Linked DNA regions of Homo sapiens: region 1 is linked to region 2. Evidence: fine-mapped expression QTL. A gene starts in region 2. The other region holds a variant in brackets. All regions are shown on one strand. Distances are from middle to middle. Region 1 overlaps LOC105377161 (a long non-coding RNA gene). Region 2 holds the start of RYBP (RING1 and YY1 binding protein).

The links. PIP is the estimated chance that this variant, and not a neighbour inherited with it, causes the effect. A credible set is the group of variants that fine-mapping cannot tell apart.
Region 1: its variant is the best candidate, but not a certain one, in a credible set for the expression of RYBP in whole blood (TOPMed, PIP 0.57).

What each region holds. Positions count from the first base shown.
Region 1 is chr3:72,578,541-72,590,054 of GRCh38, reverse strand. LOC105377161 (a long non-coding RNA gene) reads left to right here. Exons shown (of 11, transcript XR_940962.3): 11 at 7,848-7,925. It also overlaps the pseudogene MTCO3P47. Among named protein-coding and RNA genes, the nearest start is that of RYBP, 140 kb to the right of the region's middle. The variant A/G (reference allele first, on the strand shown) is at 5,690.
Region 2 is chr3:72,440,819-72,452,332 of GRCh38, reverse strand. RYBP (RING1 and YY1 binding protein) reads left to right here and starts at 5,710. Exons shown (of 4, transcript NM_012234.7): 1 at 5,710-5,837. The coding sequence starts at 5,710. RefSeq lists silencers at 4,864-5,273, 5,334-5,393.

The DNA of each region.
Region 1 (11,514 bases), 140 kb before region 2:
TCAAGGGGCATTTTATGTTGTTTTAGAGCCAGAAAGACTTCAGTTCATCCTGGCTCTGATAGTTCCTAGCCATGTGACCTTGGACTGACTCCTCGAAGCCTCTGTTTACTTATCTGTAATATGGGCGTAGTAGGCCCTCCGTCCTCACCACTTCAGTGTACTCTGGCACCTCCATTTCTTCCCCTGGGGGCTTTCTCAGGCTGCCGATGCCCACTTTGCCTGCCCTTGCAGGTGCCAGCAGTGCCCAGGAATTAGTGCCATTCCCACCTACACACAGCCCTCAACCAGCGTCTGGTGGGAATTGGTGAATAAGCACCCCAACTCCTTCACCCCCTGGGTACGGTGATTCTGAGACGCATTCTATGCCACTTCTCAGAATTTCCCCAGCGGGATTTGGCTCTGGTTTTCCCCCAGGGTGAACTTGACTGATAATACACCCTCCCTTCCATGACCTCCCCACTGACCTGCCCATGTTTCTTTAAACTGCCAAGTAAACCAGGTGCTCTGAGTCCCTGTCTCAGGGTTACTTCCTCCGGGACTAAGACAATGGGATCATGAGAAGAAGAAGAAGGATGGTTGTGAGGATATTGCAATTGCTGAACAGTGTGAGAGCATAGAGACTGCTTGGCACAGGATATGTCCTCAAATCAGTGATAACTATCATTCATAAGACTCAAAATGTACCTGAGAGACGACAGCGCTTTACATTGAGAAAGCAAAGCTGCACAGGATTGAGTAGTTGAGGCAACAGGCAATGTAGATATTAAGAGGAGAAAGGGGAGAGCTGAAAAGGAGAAACACTTACGTTAGGCCCCACGAAGAAAGCAGGGAAGCGACTGAGTTACACAGCCACATCCACGGGCACTGGAAGAGCACCTGGCTCACCAAGGGTCCTCAGCGCTCCCTTTTAAGCTTTCAACACCCCTTGATGCTCCCCTCTTAGCATTGAGTCAAAGCTGGAATTCAATAACTATTTGAGGCTGGGCATGGTGGCTCACACCTGTAATCCCAGCTCTTTGGGAGGCCAAGGAGGGTGGATCACCTGAGGTCAGGAGTTTGAGACCAGCCTGGCCAACATGGTGAAACCCCATATCTACTAAAAATACAAAAATTAGCTGGGCGTGGTGGTGGGCACCTGTAATCCCAGCTACTTGGGAGGCTGAGGCAGGGGATTGCTTGAACGCAGGAGGCAGAGGTTGCAGTGAGCTGAGATTGCTCCACTGCACTCCAGCCTGGGTGACAGAGCAAGACTCTGTCTCAAAAAATAATAATAATAATTAATAAATAAATAACTGAAAATTTGGCAAGTTTGAATAACATTCGTCTTTCTTGCACAATTTTAAGATTCTGAAGCGGAGGACAGGCTGTGTCTGTTCAGCATTGTATCCCCAATGCCCAACACACAGCCTAGTATATGTTAGGTCTACAATAGATGAGGAAACAGATACGTGAATGAATGACTGTCAAAGGAAGGGACAGGCATAGTTAAGAGCTAAGCCGAGCTAGTCTCGGAGCAGGTTGGAGCAGGCCAGCTGAAAGTCCTAGTGAAGGGCTTGGTTTGGCAGGAATGGAAAAAGGAAGAATTGTAAAAAGGGAGGCTCAGGACAGGTTTCGGAGGGCTTTGGGTGCTGAGTTAGGAGTCTGGGCTTTTATTCCAACAGTAATTGGGAGCCATCAAAGGGCCTTGAGCTAGGAGGGAGATGACATGGTAGAAAAAGGATTTTGCTTTGTTTTTTTAAGAAGACTCTTCTGGCACTTTCCTTGGCTGTGATAAAGAGTTTTGATATCCCCTAATGCCAGTGGGTTTCTGGGAACTTGAATGAGATAATATATCGGCAGTGCCTAGCACAGTGCCTGGCATCTACTCATAGGATGCACCCAATAAATGCTAGTTACTGTTCTTGTATGAAGTGTAAATAAAATACTTTATTAGTGTTTTACAAAAGAGATTGTAAATAGAGAAGAGCAGAAGGCCATAGCCTGAGACCAGAGGAAAGTGGTCACCTACACCAGGGAAGGAGCGGCTGGAGAGAAGGAAGGTGTTGTGGACACTGTAGTGTGCTGCCTAGATCCCCTTTTGGGGAGGGACTGATTCCCCCAGCTGCTGGCAACACTGTTGGAATGAATGGCCCGTGGCTAAATAACACCACCTTGCCCAAAGCCTTGCCTACTTCCAGGGAGCCCACCCCCAGCGACTGATCAACCGGGTGTGTAAAGACCTGATTCTTTTGCTCCAACTCAGTGCCCCGAATGCCTGTCCCTGTGGAGCTGGCTGAGGCCTTTGCTGAGACTATTTCACAATTCAGCTTCTCCCTCCCAGTCCTGCTTCCCTCTGCTCCCTCCACGGAGTGATGCTGAGAGCACTCCCTGATCATCTCCATCTTAGAGACAGCTTACCAGGGGAGTCAACCTGCAGCAGGAGAGCTAGGTAGAACAGCGCCATGGAGACCTAGGCAGGAGAGCTGTCTAGAGGGAGGAGGTGAGTGAGAAGACCATATTGAAATGGGAAAAGTTCCCTTGTCCCCTTCACAGGGTGTGTGTGGCTCGCTTCTTCAGTGCCCCGCTGCTCAAACCTCTAGGGGGAGCAGGCAGATGGGCAGGCTGTGGGGCTCCCATCCCAAGGCAGCATCTAGGGGTGAATACTTATAGCTCCTGAAGCCCCAGTGGGCATGTGTTATGGGGTGCTCTTTTAGTTTTGCCATTTGTAGGTGGCTTGTGTTAGTCAGCTCTATTAGACTCCCTGCCTTATCACAAGGACAGAGGGCTTTCTGTATCCCAGGGTTTCTTGCTTTGGTGTACTGGAAGAATCGGATCACATGTGGGCTTGGAGAATGAATGCAAGGTTTTATTGAGTGGAAGTAGCTCTCAGCAGATGGGGGAGCTGAAGGGAGATGGAATGGAAAGGTGGTTTTCCCCTAGAGTCAGGCCGCTCAGCAGTGGGGCTCCCCTCCAACTGCCCCAGCCAAACTCCATGTTGTTGTGCTGGTCGATGGCCTGCCAGCCTGCAGGTGCCTGCCAGTGTGCTCCTGACGTCCAGCTGCTTGTGTGTTCTTCGGCTGGTGTGTTCTGCTCAATGGCTCAGCTACTTCTTGTGTGCATACCCACTAAGGTCTCCGGTTTATTTACAGCACAGGATCAGGGTGTGGCCGACCAGGGTGGCCTTGGGAAATGCAACATTTGTGCATGAAGGCAGGAGTGCCTGTCTTCACCTAGGTCCATAGGCTCGGGGGTGGAGCCGTAGCCAGGCACCATGCCCTTCCCTTCCCAGCACTTCTCTGCCCATCTTCCATATCAAAATGGTGCCATGAGAGCAGGAGAACAAGATCTGAGAAAAGGCCTCTGGATTCAGCAACTAGGAAGCCGGCATGAGCCCAGTGCATTCAATGAGTCCAATTAATGGCAGAGGCTGAAAAGGTGATGCTGGAGTGAAACAAAGACCACAGGTGCAGAGAGTCTAGAAATTAGGCTAGGAAAGAAGACAAACTGTGAGAAGACAGCCTGAGAGGTGCCCGGGTCCTGTCACGCAGCCTCTGGATCTGGCTTATTTTGTTAAAAACAACCAAGGATTCCCATCAGAAAACCCTCCGACCACATGTTCAAGAGACACCAAATATCTCTTTAACCGTGAGACTTTAAAAGGGCAATTTGTTTTTTGAGGATCTAGAATGCAAGCCTTAGGGATGTCATTTCCCCAGCACTGAAAACACTGCAGCAATCTCGATACTGGGCATTTTTGTAAAATGAGAATCACTGTCCACCCTGCTAAGCCTCTCGCACTCTCCCTCGTCCTCCAAGGACTCTTCAGGGTCTGCTCTTTGAACCCCAGTCCTATGCCTCTTCCCTTTTGGCCTCCTTTGGCACAGATTATTTCAACAAATAGTTATTGAAACCAACAAAATGACATCAAGTCAAAAGCAGCTCATTGAAATTCTTTTCCTCCTCTACTTCCACCCCCACTCCCCAGGCTGGGACAAAGAAAGCGTGGAATATATTCAGAGCCCACCAGCTCTCAGACAAAACTGGCCTCCCCAATTTCCTGGTGGACTGTGGCTGATTCCCACCCTAGTGCTGTGTCCCCCACCTCTTCCAGGGCCCTCTCCTAAAGATGCCTATGTAAAGTGTGGCCCTCCTCAGAAGAACCCAGTTTCTGGGGTCCTCAGACCCAGGCTTCTCTCTGGGTTGAAAACAAAGTCCAGATGCCCACTCACTGCTGATGGGAACATTAAATGGTGCAAGCACTTTGGAAGGCAGTTTGGCAGTTTCTTAAAAAGTTAAACTTACCATTTGATCCAGCCATTATACTCTTAGATATTTACCCAAGAGAAAGGAAAGTTGATGTCCATGCAAAGACCTGCACAAGAATGTTCGAATGTCTATAGCAGCTTTATGTGTGATTGCCCCAAACTGAAAACAATCCGAGTGCCCTTCAGTCGCTAAATGCGTAAACAAAACGTTGTGCATCCATACAGTGTCCTGCTACTCAGCAGTCAAAAGGAATAAGTTACCGATGCTGACAACAATACAAAACTCTAGAAAATGGAACCTAATCTATAGTGACAGAAAGCAATGGTTGCTCAAAGGGGAGATTGGGAAGAGGTGGAAAGGAAGGTATATTAGTCTGTTCTCACACTGCTGATAGAGACATATTCAAGACTGGGTAATTTATAAGAAAAAAGAGATTTAATGGACTCACAGTTCCACATGGCTGGGGAGGCCTGACAATCATGGTGGAAGGTGAAAGGCACATGTTACATGGCAGCAGGCAGAAGAAATGAGAGCAAAGCAAAAGGGGTTTCCCCTTATAAAACCATCAGATCTCATGAGACTCATTCACTACCACGACAATATGGGGGAAGCTGCCCCCATGATTCAGTTATCTCCCGCGTGGTCCCTCCCACAACACATGGGAATTGTGGAAGCTATAATTCAAGATGAGATTTGGGTGGGGGCACAGCCAAACCATATCGGAAGGATTAGAAGACACACAAGGAAACTTTTGGGGGGAATGGCTATGTTCATTACCTTGATTGTGGTTATAATCACACCGATGTATGAATAAATCAAAACTCATTGTATTGCATGCCTTAAATATGTGCAGTTTACTATATGTTAATTATACCTCAATAAAGCTGTTCAAAAAAAATTTTTTTAAGCAAAGTCCAGGAGAAGGAAGGCACCATGGCTTAGTTAAAGAGTAAAATCTTTCTCACAGAGAAAGTGCTCTGTTCCTGGGTTGACATGACATGAGCTGACATTTCAGCCTCTACTTCCTGGACATTGGACCAGGTGCTATATTGTTGGAATCACCCCTGCAATTTTATTTTTTTATTTTAAAAATGAAGACAGGATCTTGCTGTGTTGCCCAGGCTGGTCTCAAACTCTCAGGCTCAAGCAATGCTCCCACTTTGGTCTCCCAAAATGCTGGGATTACAAGCATGAGCCACCACACCCAGCCACCCCTGCCAGTTTAGAACTGAGTAGATTTGCTTTCTACTTGATTCCTGTATTCCAAAAAACCAAGCAAAGAATAGTTAGGAAATATTAGGTTTGGTGAACAAACAGTGAAAGGTGGGTCATATTTAAGAGAAAAGAGGAACTGTCTCTATTGGTCAAATTCCTAGAATTTGCCGTATGGTCACAATTAAATTGGGGCCAGTGTGGTGGCTCACATCTGTAATCCCGTGCTTTG[A/G]GAGGCCAAGGGAGGAGGACTGCTTGAGCCCAGGAGTTTGAGAGCAGTATGGGAAACCTGGTGTGACCTTGTCTTTACAAAAAATTTAAAAATTAGCTGAGCTTGGTGGTGTGCACCTGTGGTCCCAGCTACTCGGGAGGCTGAGGTGGGAGGATTGCTTGAGCCTAGGAGTTCAAGGCTGCAGTGATCTGTGATCACTCCAGCCTGGGTGACAGAATGAGATCCTGTCTCAAAAAAACAAAAAACAAAACAACAACCAAACCTAAATTGGGCTTATTTGTAAATGTGACTCTTTCCCTAAATGTTTAGAAGCATTCATTTACTCCTTTCAAAAGAAATGTATATGTATGTTGCTTTAAGTGAATGCATGACATTTATTGTATTGATGAACCATGGTTTATTTGGCTTTCTTCAGTAACCTTCTTGTTGGATGTTTAGGTTATTTCCAATGTTTTACTGTTATATATCATAGCAGACAATTTGGTCAAGAGCAATTTGGCTGGAAGCAAATTGATTAAGCTGTCAGTATGGTTGGAATGCTGAATTCGTTGATAATGAAAATTCTCAGTCACTATGTTTATACAAAAAGGAAATTTTTGTTTGCCAAGGGGAAATTTTGCCTGGAATGATATTCCAACTCTTTAAGCATCTTTCAGCAAAATAATCATTTAAAAAAAAATCTAAAGTTTTGTTTTCTTCTTTTCAACACCTCCCTATTTCCAGTCAATTATGCCCTGGTGGCTGGGTGCAGTGGCTCACACCTGTAATCCCAGCACTTTGGGAAGCTGAGGTGGGCGGATCACTTGAGGCTAGGAGTTCGAGACCAGCCTGGTCTGTGGTCAGTGTGCTGGTTAGTAGGCCCAGTGTTAGTAGGGTAGTGGATTTAAAGTGAAATCATATAGCTAGGCCAGATGTTATTAGGAGGGCTGAGAGAGCTCCTGTTAATGGCCAAGGGCTGGGCTTAACTATGTGGTAGGCGTGTGTTTGGTGGGTCATTATGTATTGTCGTGTAGGTAAAGTCTTACTAAAAGTGTGAAGACTTAAGCTTGGATGAAGGCAACAGCGAACTCAGCCTGGCCAACATGGCAAAATCTCGTCTCTACTAAAAATACAAAAATTAGCCAGGCATGGTGTCAGCGCCTGTAATCCCAACTACTTTGGAGGCTGAGGCAGGAGAATCACCTGGGAAGCAGAGGTTGTGTAAGCCAACATTGTGCCACTGCATTCTAGCCTGGGCAACAGAGTGAGACTCTGTCTTTAAAAAAACAAAAAAAACGCTCTGGTTTGGGATTAGACTAACAAAGAAGCAACTGAAGCAACTATCGCCTAAAAGATGGAAACGATCCTAGTGTTCACCATTTCATGTCTTGGATAGAATGCTCAAAATTTATGATATTTGCACTAGTGATTGAAAAACTAATCCTGGTTCAATTTACTAAATTAATACTTTCAGGAAAACATGGCTAAGAAAACAGAGGAAGAATCAGTTACAGAAAATAAAGCCTCTCCAGACTTTTTGTTTTTTTCGGTGCAAGTAAAGTTCCTAGTATTATCCCTATTCAGGTAGAGGGGGAAAAAAAAAAAAAAGGGTAATCTCTGGCACCTGGGAACCAGTGTGATACAGCAGGGCCATGGTGTTCTGCTGTTGGACAGACACAATCTCATAGAACACAGACAAGGTCACTCTGCAACCAGGATAAAGTAAACTGAAAAGAAGGTCATTGTGTAACCCATAAGATACCAAACATCTCTTTTTCTCACCAAACACGAGTGACTGTTGCTTCTTTGTCAATTACAGCTTTATCCTTGATTTAGTTTGCCTTCCGTATACGTAAGACTTATTGTGATACTGAATTCTAGAATTGTGGTTGCTTTCTGACAGCACTGAATCTAGAGTGAGCCTGTTTCCTTAAGCCTTCCGCCAGATCACTCAACCAAAGCCCAAATCCTGTAATAGATTCTTTCTAACACCCTCTACGGAAACTACCACAGTTCCCCATGGTATTCATGCTCTCTAGTTTCTACCAGTAACAAAACCAACTTGTTCAACAACAGGTGTGTTCCTGGGTGGTCTTTGGCTGAAGGGCATTGACAAGGTTCTTTAATTCTTTGTTCCTTTTATTTGTTTTCTTTCAATAGCTAGGCTTTCTCTTTTCAGGCAAAACAGGAAAACCAGACCAGCAGAGAGGAGAGAGACCAGCAATCAGACCCTCCCAGAGACAATCATTGTTAACATATTGGTGCGGACCTTTCCTAATTTCTTTTCTATAGATATGTTATAATTTTCCTCTTTAAAAATAGAACCAAATTATTCTATTTTTTAGTTGATTTTTTTTTCCAACTTATGACAGCGATGGTTAAATTTTATGCGTTACCTTGGCTAGGTTATGGTGCACAGTTGTTTGGTCAAACACCAATCTAGATGCTGCTATGAAGGTATTTCACAGAGGTAATGCGCATCTACAATCAGCTGACTATAAATAAAGGAGATTACCTTTGATAATGTGGGTGGGCTTCATCCAATCATGTGAAGGTCTTAGAGCCGAAACTGAGGTTTCTTGGAGAGGAAGGATCATGGAAATCTTCCTCAGTTTCCAGCCTGACAGCCTGCAGATTTCAGACTGGGATATAACATCAACTCTTGTCTGGGTTTCTAGCCTGCCAGCCTACCCTACAAATTTCAGACTTGGCAGACTCCGCCAATCATGTAAGCCAATTCCTTAAAATCTCTCTCTCTCTTTCTGAATTCTGTTTCCCTGGAGAACCCTGATGGACATAATGACCACCTTTTGATGTAAACAGAGGCATACAGCTCTATCCTGTCTCTACCATATCCCTTAAAATGAGGCACACCCATCGTATGCTTGCGCTGTCCTTTAACCAACTCCCTATTGACAGACATAAAACAATTTGTTTCTTCTTATTATTAGCAGACCAGAGCATATTTAATTGTCTGAAAGGGAATTAGAAATTTTAAAAGTAGAGGAGAATGAAATCCCCCAAATTCTGAAAGATACTTAACTTTTTTTTTTTTGTCTAAAGGAACAAAAAGGTCATAAAGCTACTCCACAGGGGATCGAAATTACCTGCACCCATGATTGCAATATTCTTTTCAACCAAATTGTCACAGAGACTACACTGCTATTGCCACCATTGTGTTTTCAACCAAATCCAATGAAGCCACTGTAAACGAGGCTATGATAGGACATTCTTGTAATATTTCCTTACATTAAATTCTCAGAAGTGGAATTGCTGAGTCAAGCAATCTGCACTTTTAAAGCTTGAGATCTATAATTGTCCCCTTGGGATTAATTCCAATTCATGTGTTTATTAGATAAAGTTTTTGAGCACCTCCTATATATATGCTGGAGTGTGCCAGGCCTGGAAAACAGAGACAAATAAGCTATATCCTTGGCTTTAAGGAGCTCATGGCCTCTTTCAGTTGCCTTTCTGCCTAGCACAGTGAGCCAACAGAAGGCTCTCAACACATATTTGTTAAATAAATAAGTGGATGAATGAATAAATGAATGAATGCATATCAGTTGGCTTTTCCTGTGTAGCAAACTACCTTATCATAGGCTTAAAATGACAGTTATTATTTTTTATGATCCCATGGGTCAGTTGGGTGGTTCCTCTTGTGTGGGGTATGTGGCTGATCTCCATGGGCAGCTGGTGGCTCGGCTGGGGCTGTATGATCTAGCATGGCCTCACTCACCTATCCGGCATTAAGCAGGCTAACTGGTCCTGAAGGGCTTCAGTTGGGAGGGCTCATCTCTGCTCCAGGTAGCCTCTCATCCTCCAGGTGGCTAACTCAGGCTTGTTCATATGGTGGACTCAGGGTTCCAACGAGCAGCAAACAAGGGCAAGTGCCAAGGTACAGTACTATTCAAAGCTCTACTTGCGGGGCTGGGCACAGTGATTCATGCCTGTAATCCCAGCACTTTGGGAGGCTGATGTGGGCAGATCACTTGAGCCCAGGAGTTGGAGACCAGGCTAGGCAACATGGTGAAACTCCATCTCTACAAAAAATAGAAAAATTAGCTGGTCATGGTGGCCTATGCCTGTAGTCCCAGCTAATTGGGAGGCTGAGGTGGGAGGATCACTTGAGCCTGGGAGGTTGAGGCTTTAGTGAGCTGAGACTGTGCCTCTGTACTCCAGCCTGGGCGACACAGTGAAACCCTGTCTCAAAAAAAAAAAAGAAATCTCTACCTGGGCCACATTTGCTGCTTTCCCATCAATCGAATCAAACCTCACAGTAAGCCCAGAGTGAGTATAGAAGGGTGTGGACCTAGGGTATGGCTCTCGGGAGGAAGATTCAGCGGCATTTTGGCAGTCTGTGCAGAAAAGATGTGCCTTTGCTTCTAAGCTCATGGCCTGTGTCCATTTACCTAGATGTTTAAGTGGGAAACTTGGTTCTTTGTTTTTGAAATTACACTTTGAACCCTGAACTTTTCCGCTACATATGTTTAGCTCTGCCTTCAAAGAAATAACCCAGTGTGTGTGATTCCGGAGGCCGTGGCTAAGAAAACCGTTTCTGGGGCCTCAAATGCATGTTCACCACCGTGTGCTTTGACCTTTTCCTTCACAAGTGTGGCGAATGATAACTCATTGTTGCTGAAGCCACTGGTGACTTATCTGATCTCTCCTCACGAGCACAGATAAAGTTCAATCTTTACCCTGGTCCCCCATCACATAGCCTATTGGCACTTCATTTGCTCAGCACTTGGAAGGTGACTGAATGTAAAATTCCTTAGCATCAATTAAACATTTGGCTCAGGATAGCAATGTGAGAGACCTTTTGGGGCAAAAGGGGTGCCTGTCATTAAAAAAAAAACTGTGCCGATTTTCAAAGAACAGTTGCTAAAAGATCCCTTTACTACCACTTCTAGCCTGGAAATCTCTGCCTGCTGTTAAACACACGTGGCATGTTCGAAATGGGAGAAAATAGCTGGTAGAAATCTCTTGCATTCTTTACTTGAGAGGGCACAGAGGTTAATTTGGGAATAGTTCTCTAATGGAAGCCAGATTGGGGAAAGTTAGGAAACAAATTTAAAAATCATGTCTCCAAAGTAAGTGAGAAAGATGCTTTATTTATTTATTTTGCATTCAAGATAAATAATCATTTATCAAAATTTTGGTGTTTTGTTTGTTTGTTTTTTGAGAGAGACACATTTTTATGGCATGGGCCACCACGTGCATGGGGCTGTCTCGGTCAGTTAAATGAATAGGATGATCTTAATAGCTGCAATTTATTCTCCCTTTGGGGACATCAGGTTCAGAAGACCATTCTATAAGCTGTTTATTCTGGCGTATTTGATTCTGAGAAAGTCTTTTGACGTTTTCATATGGAAAAGCTTCCCTGCGAATGCAGATTCAGCCAAGTTTACCTTCTAAATTCTTCCCTTTCCTGTTGTCACCCACTCCACAAACACCACACACACACATACGCACACACTGAGACCCCACACACATTTGTCTTGTTGCCCTAGGAACAGTGTAGAACAGTGCTTCTCAAATTATCTGGGCATAAAAGGTCAGTTTTTGAGATTTCTTTTTTTGTTGTTTGAGACAGAGTCTTGCTCTGTTGCTCAGGCTGGAGTGCTGTGGCACAGTCTTGGCTCACTGCAACCTCCAGCTCCTGGATTCAAGCGATTCTCATGCCTCAGCCTCCCAAGTAGCTGGGGTTACAGGCGCCCGCCACCACTCCCAGCTAATTTTTGTATTTTTAGTAGAGAGGGGCTTTTGCCATGTTGGCCAGTCTGGTCTCGAACTCCTGACCTTAAGTGATCCGCCCGCCTCTGCCTCCCAAAGTGATGGGATTACAG
Region 2 (11,514 bases):
TGAAAGAACATCATCTCAGAATAAAAAATAGTCTTTCCCAAGAATCAACCATTGGTAATTTATCTGGTCATAGGAAAGTACTCATACATTTACCCTTTATTTTTCTCATTGCACTGCAGATTGTTGAAAATGTCACCCCCGATCAGGGTGTGGGACTCAGACCATAAGAAGGTGTATCATGGGTGGGGCAGGGGTAAGCACTGAGGTGTTTGGAGCAAACCTTTTTTCTCTCACTTGTTTATAATACCTTCATTGGGGATTCCTAAGGTTCAAAGTCCTAGGCTTAGTGAGTATTCAGGTTTCCGTCTAGGGAGTAGCACTTGCAAATTTAACGGCAGGAGGAAGCCTGAGTTGATAACTTTCCAGCCCTTCCCATTGGCAAGCCTCAGTGGCTTTCACTTCTTTCTTGAGCTGAAGAAAGGAGGGAAGCCCACCCAAGCTGCCCTTCATGGTCTGAATCTGGGCCACTTTAAAGGTCCTTCCACTACCTCCCCTCCTCCAAGGAGTCTGCTTCTCCCAGCATCTAATTCTTTAAGGCAGACACTGACAGTCCCAGGTAGACATATTCTTGTAAACTCATCAGTGGCTTCCATCGCATTCAGGATAAAGACCTCACTCCCAACTCACTCCCTACCCTGCCATATGGATCTATCCAGCCACCTGCCTCTCCAGCCTCATTTCTCCTCTCTGGCGGGACTCTGGCCACAGCTGCTTGCCTTTAGCTCCTCCAAAGCACCAGACACCTGACTGCTTTTGCCTTTTTTTCTTGTGGGCAACTTAACTTTTTCAGGGGAGTTCCCGGCTCCACCGGCTACATCAACAACCTCCCTCTCTTAGCACCCTCTCACCTCTCATCTCGTATTTTGTCTTTGTAGCAATTGTCACAATTGTAATTACTTGTATAATGTCTGGCTCCTCAACTAGGAGGTAAACTCCAAAAGATTAGGAATGAAGTCTATTTTGTTTATCTGATCTTCCATTCCCTGGCATGAGCATGATAGCTAGTTGCTACTCAATATATTGTTAAATGAAAGAGATTTTTTTTTCAACGAATGTACACTAGTCAGTGTTCTAGGCACTTGATATATACTAGGTGGGATGGTGGGGGGAACACAGCAGAAAAATAAAATCCCTGCCATCATGAAGCATATATTCTACTGGGGCAAGGATCTGCTTAAACAAGATAACTGAACTGTGGGGTACATTAGAGAAAAAGTCTCCTCATTATAAGAGCCAAATGTAGGGTATGCTAAGGAGAGAAAAGTAGAGCAGGACAGAGGGACATGGGACATCAGGTTGTGGGTTGGTGTATGAAATTTTTAGATTGGGCCGGGTGCAGTGCCTCACGCCAATAATCCCAGCAACTTGGGAAGCTGAGGCCGGAGGATCTCTTGAGCCCAGGAGCTCCAGACCAGCCCGGGCAACATGGTGAAACCCTCTCTCTACTTAAAAAAAAAAAAAAGAAAAAAAAAGAAAAATTAGCTGGGTGTGGTATTACATGCCTGTAGTCTCAGCTACCCAGGAGGCTGAGGTGGAAGGATTGTCTGAGTTCAGGAGGTTGAGGCTATAGTGAGCCGTGCTGTGATCCTGCCACTGCACTCCAGCCTGGGTAACAGAGCAAGACTCTGTCTCCAAAAAAAAAAAAAAAAAAAAAAAGAAAAGGAAAGGAAAAGAAACAAAACACATGCAGATGTAGATTGCGTGACCAGGGAAAATCTCAGTGAGGAATTGACTTTTGCGTAAAGACCTGAAGGAATTGAGGCAGCTGACAATGAATGTGGGTATCTGCGCAAAGAGCATTCCAAGCCAAGGAAGCAGTAAGTGTGAAGGCTCTGAGGCCCTGAAGGTAGGGAACTGTTTTAGGAACAGCCAGGAAGCCGGTGTGAGTGAAGCGAATGAGGGGAAGGAAGTCAAAATGTAGACTTCGAATGTGTCTTATGTATCTGTGGAAACATTTATACTGGACATTTCTTGGCCAGTGCTTCTAACCAGCATCTACACTAAAACCACGGGTTTCAAACAATTTTTTTTTTCTCTTTGAAGCAGAGTCTCACTCTGTTGCCCAGGCGGGAGTGCAGTGGTGTGATCTCATCTCACTACAACCTCCGCCTACTGTGCTCAAGTGATCTTCACACCTCAGCCTCCCAAGTAGCTGAGACTACAGGAGTGCACCACCATGCCCGGCTAATTTTTGTATTTTTAGTAGAGACAGGGCTTCACCATGTTGGCCAGGCTGGTCTCAAACTCTTGGCCTCAAGTGAAACATTTGCCTCGGCCTCTCAATCAAATAATTTTTAAAGCAGTAGAACCCTTTTGTCAAATGAAATATGAAATGGAGGTTCAAGGGAGGAAACAGAGGAGCAGGGACTGGCTGGCAACTCTCACTGTTACTCTCACCCCATACTGGTCCAAGATGACATCTTAGAGGAAAATTAGTTCCCCACCCAGCTCAGCCTCTAAACCCCACTCCAGAATCACAGTACGCTCTGCCTAGAGCCACAGCACTCTGGAGCACACTGTACCAGAAATAGTCCCATTTGACTCATACAACTACAAGGAGACTTTCAATAGATATTTGCCTCCAACATCTGAATGAAATTAGAGCCTCTAAAGTTACAACCACATGGTGATCCTTGGGTCTGATAAGTTCCTAGAGATAGTTCTCTACTCTGAAATTGTTTTTCTTAAACACATTTTTTTGATTTTTTGGTTTTTTTTTTTTTAGACGGAGTCCTGCTCTGTCGCCCAGGCTGGAGTGCAATGGTGCAATCTTGGCTCACTGCAACCTCCGTCTCCCTGGTTCCAACAATTCTCCTGCCTCAGCCTACCGAGTAGCTGGGATTACAGGCGCCCATCACCACGCCCGGCTATTTTTTTTTTATTTTTAGTAGAGACAGGGTTTCACCATGTTGGCCAGGCTGGTCTCGAACTCCTGACCTCAGGTGATCCACCCACTCGGCCTCCCAAACTGCTGGGATTACAGGTGTGAGCCACCGTGCCTGGCCCTTCTTAAACACATTTTTAAAAACTTTTTCTTTTTTGAAAAGATAACACAAGACAAAGATACAAAACGACATACTAAAACAGTCAACCTCCTATGGATAAATTACAGTGTATTTGCAATGGAATTCTACACACTTAAGCAAACAAAAATGAACTATTGATGTAGGCAACAACGTGGATGGATATCACAAATATGCTGAGCGAAAGGTGCCAGCCAGACACAAGAGTACAGACCATATGACCCCTGCATATGACCTTAAAGAACAGGCAAAACTAATCTTTGGTGACAGAAGTCGGAATTGTGGTTACCTAAGTGAGGGATGACTCATTGGGAGGATAAAATGTTTTATTGTTCTAATGGTGGAAAGAGGGGTGTAGATGTATGCACTAAGCTGCAGTGTGAAAATTTGTGTATTTTATTCTATGTATAGAATAATAACAAAGTCTCCTTTCCACTACTATGGCTCCCAGCTACCTCCCCGGAGGCCACTCTTCCAGTGAGGATTTCTTAGTGCCCCGTTTCTGTCACGACCTTCATGCCAGGGGCAGAGTCCTGGGAGCATGCCAGGGAGACACCAGAGGCCAAGGCTGCTCCATGGCGCAGCTGCACTGGGCCATGGCTTGTGTACGTACCCTTTGGCTTTCTACGGCCCTTTTACCCCTAGAACGCTATCCCTCTCTCTTCCTCTTCCTTCTTTCATCCCTCCCCTAAGGAGGCAGCTGTGGCATTGAGGCCTTGAGAGGTTGCTGACCCTTGCTAAACAGTGTTGCTTCTCCTGGCCCTCCTGGGTGCGCCTGCCTGGAGAGGACACTGCGTGCTGATCAAACTTATTGTTGACACATTCATTCTCTCTTTTATTCTCTCCCTTCTGATCCCTGGACTGATCTCTAGGAATTTCTGCTCCCTGGGTGCTCAGTCTCAGTGAGCTTCCCTGGTGGCAAGCCCTGATATGCTTCCCTTCCATGGGGCAGTCCTGATAACAACCTATTTTATATTTGCATATAAACCTGGCTGAGGGTCTGTCTTAACTCCAATCCCCCCACCCCCGGGCCCCAACTCCTAGCAGCATTCTAAGACTCCGTCCCTCCCCTAACCTGGGGCTTCAGCACAGCCGCGTCTGTGTCTTTTATCATCTGGGGTCGTCCTCCTACCAGATCTCCCTGCCTGAGGACAGAGGGTCCTGAGTCACGTTCAAGTCAATTTGGCAAGCGTTTTTGGAGCAGGGCAGAAAGTGAAGGGCACTACCCTGTTCCTCGACTTCAAAAATCGAACGCGGGGGAAATGGTGCACAATTCAGGCCCAGTTATAATAGCTCCTAATACCCAATATCTTGTTTTGGTCCTTCGTGAATACCAGGCATCCATCAGCGAACCTTCCATGCCTGATTTCTCCGAATATTCAAAACAACCCTGGGAGGATGAGCCCCATTTTGGAGATGAAGGAGCTGAGGCACGAGGTTTTAATGCGGGCATGTGGTCGCCAGAATTTGAATAGCAACTTCCCTAAGGAAACGCCCTATTTAGACTCTAGGGGAGAGGAGGATCCCAGGAGGAGTCCGCCAGCAGAAGCTCAGAGTCTGGCCTGGGGGCATTTAGTTATGCCACGCCCTTTCTCTACTGTTCCCTCCCGCGACAGGGGCCTGACAGGGAGTGGGGCTTCGGGCCAGCGTCTCGGCCGGACGCAGGGACTTCAGAAGAGGCAAATACAAAGCTCCGCATGGCAGAGGAACAGAGGGGCGCGGGGGAACGCGGTCCAAAGGTGGACCTTGTCGGCCCCTGGGCACTGCAAGCCTCGAGGCGCTGCGAGCGGTGAGGCTGTTGCAAGCTCCCGCGGCGCGCGCAAACTGCGTGGAACTACTTCCCCGGGGCGGCTTCGGGGCCGGGGTCCCGGCAACAGCCTCACGGGGCGCCGTGCGGGGCCCGAAGCCAGTTGCCAGCTCCCGGGCGCGGCCACGTGCGCCCCGCCGGGCTTGCACGCTCCGCCGCGCCGGGCCGCGGGGCCACCGACAGGCACGCGCGCCCCCAGCGCGCACACACTCCCGGGCACGCACACCGACCGCCCGGCCCACGTCCGCCACGCCCCGCCTTCCCCCGCGCCCCGCCTCCGCCCTCGCGGCGCCGGCCGCCGCCCTCCCATTGGCCGCACGGCGCGTGACGCGCGGCGCCAGGCCCCGCCCCTCGTCAGTCACTCGGCGGAGGCGGCGCTGGCGGGGACTAGTCTCGTCCGGAGACTGTGATGGATTTAACCAGGTGGGGAGGGAGGGAGGGCGCGAGCTTGGGAGTGGAGAGGGAAGGAGCCGGCCCACTCCCCGTCGCCGGCCTCGGGCTGCCCCTGCGCGCCCCCTCCAGATCCGGCCCGCGGCTCCCCTCCCGGCCCCCCCAGCCCCACGCTCAAGTCCACAAGTCCGCCCGCTTCCTGCGCCCGCCGCGGCCCTTCCCGGGGCGCCGCCGCCACCGCCTGGTGTGCGAGGCTATCCGGCCCGGGCCCGGGGCTTGCAGGGTGCCAGTGGGGGCGCCCGGTTCCCTTCCTCGCTCTCTCTTCCAGTCCCCGGAAAGGGTGGGTGGGTGGTCTCCCGAGCGAAGTTTCCAGCACTGGATTCCTGCGAAATTACGACGGCTCACCCGCGTCTGTGTTTTGCTGTCTCTCCCCCGTTTTCCTGCTCCCTGCCTCTTCCCTCCCTTTTCCCCCACTCTCCACTCCTCGGAAGGCCAAAAAGACAAGCGAAACCTGCCGCAGACGAAGGGTTTTGGGATTGTAGCGTCTGCACCTTCAGAAACAGTGCTGAAGCCTTTAAATGCAGCATCTGCGATGTGAGGAAAGGCACCTCCACCAGGTACTTGAAGATCTGTGTTACCTTTTGTTAAAGGACTTTTTTTTTTTTTTTTTAAGTGAGAGGGTAGTGAGCCTTACTTTCTGCCCTTTTTCCAACTTGTTGATTACGGCTTTTTTTGTATTTGCGGGTGGGTTGTGTGTGTTTTTGGGTTGAGTGTATTAAGTGTTGGGTGAAAAGCCTTGTGTTCGCTAAATGATTTATGGGAGGGAATTTTTCCAGGTTTTCATTTTATTTCAAACGGACACTGGATTTATTTGACACTTGTGTCTATTGGCTTATTGGTATTGGCTGGGGAAGAGAGGAAGCAGTACTATCGCTATGGATTGTAGGACATAGATGTTTTATATTTTTGCCATGTGTAGAATGGTTTTAATTTGCCTGTCCCGAGTTACTTTTCTCTTGTCTGAGAAATTTAGTGGGGGTAGTAAGGCTGGCTGTGCTTTTCCTGTCTTGAGCTGCAAATGTCTGTTACTTTCTTGCACTTGAAAATAAATGTCGGTATTTGATAAAGTAAGTGCATTTTGTGGGAGACTGAGCTGTCAGTTTTTTTTTTCTTTGACTAGCTTATGTGGGGTGGTGATGGGGGACGATTTTGTAAAATGGTGAAATGAGCAGTGACTGTGGAAGTTTGTGTTTAAAGCTCTGTGATGATGAAAAGAATGTTGAAAGAATTCCTTTTCATTTTGATGAAGGTCGTAAACTGCATGTGATGTTAAAACGAGTTAACTACTTTAGATTTAACATTCATAAATACTTGGATAAAATGTCAAGACTCATGTAGTCTTTTGGTCATCTTTTAATTTATGTCTGAATTTGTTTCATTGGCGTTAGAGTTTGAAGTTAAACTGTTCTTGGTGTCATTTAATGAACAGGCATTGGGTGTGTGTGTGAGACAAGAATGAGTTTTTGGTGGATCCTTTAGAACATTACAGTTGATTGCCAAAAGTCTCATTTTATCAGGTACTTATTTTTGAATTGGTGACATTTCAGTGTGACTGTGTAGTAGTACTTCACAGTTCCAACTGGATATTGTTCTTTGATTAGATGAATATGTCATGTTAAGGTTTCATTGGTTTATTTATACTTGGGATTAAATAGGATTATTGGGCAACCTAAAATAATCTAACTCTGAGATTAATTGGCCTAATTATTGTTTCTGTGAATTGCACTCTTTAAATGATGATACCTTTGAATAAAAATAATCAAAAACTAAAAATATTACTCCATACGTTGTTTTAAGAAATTTTTGTCGGTGTTTTGTATTATCATGGAATATATCTAAAGTAAAAAACACGCATCAGTAGTTTCATAGATTTTGTTTTGCTGTCTAAAATAGGGAATTCCATCAAATGGCATGAAAGTTTTTAGAAATGTATTTGTTATTTAAAGCAGTAGTGATTGTATATTATTTATGAGTAATGTTTTTTACATGTAGAAGCCCTCAGAGGCCAAACCTCTTTATTGTGGTTTTGCTTTGAGTGTTACCGTAGATGGTGTTCAAGTAAATGATTAGGAAACTCCTAAGAACTTGAGAACATTACTGGTGAAGAGAAACGTAAACCAAATTCAAAAGTTTATGTCTGATTTATCGCTGGGAATGATTATCTCATAATGAAGTGCATTTCAGCTTTTAACATGTATTTTAAAAAACCTTACTCATCAATTTTTCGGAAGCACATGGAAGGTGTTGACTTTTAAAAAAGGTATGTATGTATGTTTAAAGTTTTTTCAGAGCCGCAGATGACTGTTGAAACTTAGTTAAAACTACTGAATTATTTACAGTGAAAATATTTTAGAGTCTATTCAGGAACAGGGAAAGGCGTCTACTTTAAGGGTCTTCGAGTAATTTTCTGATGTCATTTAATAGAATTTGAATACAGATTTAACAGGTGTGAGGACTGAAAACTGTGTGCATTCATGACACTCTTAGCTGGCCACAGTTGGTTTCATTTTGGTTATTGTCAATATTTTGGTGTTTTAGATCTATTCAGAAGTCATCGTTGGTTGGAATGCAAATAACGTTTTGGTTTTCCTACATTATGAACAGGTTTTATGTGGAGAAGTGAGTTTGACAGGTTTTCATCCTATCCTGTCTTGTGTGTTAACTGTTGGTTAATCCCTTTGTGATACTGGTTACTGCCATGTTTTTTTCTTGGCCCTCTTGTATTTTTTTTGTACCTCAAAAGTTTGAGTATGAACTTGACATTTTCTATCTTGTGTAGTTTTAATCAGACTTGGTATAGATTGATGGCAGTAGAAAACTTGTGTTTTGGATGCTGGGTAATAGGCAATATTTGTGATTTTTAGAATAATTTGTTTCGTGGCACAGAAATTGTATTTTATTGCTCTGAGCTGGTGTTATGTATTTTAACAATTCTAGCTAGTTGGCTAGCCGGTGGTTATTTTGCAGTTTTTGATCATTCTCATCACTGTCACCTTCATCTACCAGTCAACCAAGGAAACCACCTATGACTTAGTGGTAGGCCAGTATGATAGAGAACTATATTTGCCCTTTGAGGGTAGAATTGATATTGCTGATGTGATTGGGAAAATACTGCCATTCGTCTGAAGAACACTTATTAAATTCGTAGGATATGAAAGATGCTGCTGAAGGGATTGGAGAGAGGAGAGGGGAGTGTTAAAATGTTGATAAGCCGTGTATGGGAATGACCATAATTCCAATTATAAAGGCTGTACGGAAGCAGGGGTCTGGCTTAGGGAATCAGTTAGAAGGATTCCTTCTTCTCCACTTCTTTTGGACAAGGAGAATTAAAAAATCACCTGTCACCTTTTCACTATTACCATGTACGTCAGATATTTTTAGTTCTGCAGGTGGAATTGTTAAGGTGATTGAGAATGAGGTCTTTTTTTTCTTTTTGGAGCAGCAATAGAGCAGAATGAAAGGTGAGATGGTCTTAAGGAATCTGTTAAGGGAAGAAGGTGGCCTAGGCTGTGTGGAGGTTCAGGGGCAGCAGGAGAGATCTATATTTTAGATGTATTATCAGTATGTGTTGGGTGTCTTTGGTTTTTTGATAAACTTGTTTTTCTAACTAGACTGTCCACTCTTTGTGCCTTTTCTGGTTATATATATATCCTTTTGTTTGGAGACAGGGTCTTTCTCTGTCACCCAGGCTGGAGTGCAGTGGCATGCTCATGGCTCACTACAGCCTCAACCTCCGTGGCTCAAGCGATTCTTCCACCTGAACCTCCTGAGTAGCTGGGACTACGGGTGTGCACCATCACATCCGGCAAAGTTTTGTAATTTTTGTAGAGACAAGGTTTCGCCCTGTTGACCAGGCTGGTCTTGAACTCCTAACCTCAAGTGATCTTTCTGCCTTGCAGGAGTGAGTGATAATTTACTTATAACACCCATTGTAAGTCTGCAAATCAGTGATTTCTAGTCATTTTAAAGAGTTGTGCAGCCATCACGGCAACCCAGTTTTAGAACATTTCCATCATGTCAAATGGTTTCGTTATATCCGTTCTGTAAGTCTAACAGAACAGAATGGAGAAGTCATGGGCAACAGGTTGCTTCCCTACCATGCTGATGTACCCTGAGCCTTTCAAGGTAGAAAATAAAAGTGCATGTTAGAATGTGTGTGTAAGGTGGCAAGTGGCTGGGGGAGAAACACTATCCCTTTCTTAAGTGGTAAAGTAGTATTTCCCATCCTGCTTTGCCAGTCTCAAGAAAGAGGATACCGGCTTTTAAAAGTAGAAGAAAAAAACTACAAATGCATGAATGTACCCAACTGTGTGTGTTTTTTTTTTCTTTGTATTTTCCACCTTCCTACACTTCCAGCTGATGTTTTTTTTGTTGTGGTGGTGGTTTTTTTTTTTTTTTTTTAAATGAAGAGACAAGGTCTTGCTATGTTGCTCAGGTTGGTCTTGAATTCCTGGCCTCAAGGGATCCTCCTCCATTGGCCTCCCAAAGTGCTGGGATTTGCCCAGCCCCTAACTGTTGTTTTGTTAAGTTGCATTTCTCAAGATTGGGCAGAGTAGCTTCCTAGACTTGGTGATTTAATTTTACTTTTCTTGTCTTGTTATTTCTCTGCATTCAATGTTACCTTAATTGTAAAATAAAAATTACCAAGACATTGCTGAATATAGTTGTTGATTAGTGTTCCCTTGATAGTAGTCCTGCATTTTTACTTTCAGCTACTGCTTAATCACATTCATTTGCAAAATTGGAAAATTTTTACTTTGGCTAATTACCATAGGTTTAGAACTTTCTGGTCTTCAGCTCCAGAAATGTATCGCTGTGTTGAGATCATGTTTTATTTCATCCATGTTTATTTGAATACTGCCCCTCTGAAAAGCTGACTGTTTTTGGAGCTTTTATACACAAGTATGAGTGAGGAAATTACTTTAGGTGTAGAATAAAATTGTGTAGAAATAATTATCTTTGAAAAAATTTGGTATTCAGGATATTGAATTGGAAGTGTTGAAGAAGCAGCTGTTTTGTGTGTAATACGTTTCTCTTGTTTGAGAATTTACCAGTTTTTTGCAGTTGTAGCTTTGAACTATCCATTCCCCCCTTAAATTTAGATACCCTGACAACCAAAAATCTCTTGAATTGTCATGAAGTACTTTAGTAGAAGTTTTATGGAAAAACACAACATAGCTATGATCTTTGCTGGAAGCTTCAAAAAGGCATCATCGTGTGATGCTTTTTAGGTAGAAAAACTCCCAGAAATAAGATAAGGTACCTACACTGGGCAAAGCCCAAGCCTCTTACTCATGTTTCCTGGTAATCCACAGCAGTGGTTTTGCTCCTTTCATGACATTGTTTTTGTTGTAGTGTTTGTCTTTCATAAAAATTCTCCATAAAAATATATAAAAATTACCTGTCTTCCAAATCAAACTTTTATCAAACCTTCCAAGCTGAAAGCTGGTACAATTTAAGATCATTTTACCCAGGAACAGAGTAATAATTTATTTTGTGTTTACTGTTTCATTGGACTTACTGATTTATTGGTGGTGACTTGATCTTATGTGTACTTGGTGACCTTAAAGTAAATTACCTGGGTAGTTGTGGTCATTTGACAAGTTTTTATTGAGCACACAGCCATTTGCGCTCTTGGTGTACAGTGGTATAAAGACAGACCAGGTCCCTGTTCTTACGGAGCTTAAAATACTATGGAAAGGAAGAGAAAATAAACTAACAGAAAAATAACAATTTCAGCTGGCGACAAGTGCTACGAAGAATTTAGAGAAGGGTAAGGAACTACAGAGTGATGAGAACTGGGTGGAGTGACTGCTTTATAGACAATGTTGAGATAATGCATTTAATTTTTTAGGAAAAAGTAATGCTACTTCCTTTTGGAGCCGGGGATAATTCTTATGTAGGTTTACCTGTGCCATTTAGCTCATTTGGTTGGGGGACAGACAGCTTTTAGATTTGGAGCCCTTGTGCATAGGCTGCTAAACTTATAAACTTAGTTCCATGTTGTAGACTAAACCTAGGCCAGCTAATTTACTAGTATTGTTAGTCATTAGGGTGGGAGATTATGAATGGATTCACTTACATATTATTTATTCATGTGGCATATATTTGTTGTGTATTTCAGTAGGTGCTGAAGAAAATTCCAGGATTAAGAAAAACTTTCTCAAGTAGCTGTAGTTTACCAAAATAGTTATCAGAACTAATTTGGTTCATTAGGACTTTGAGTAAATAGTA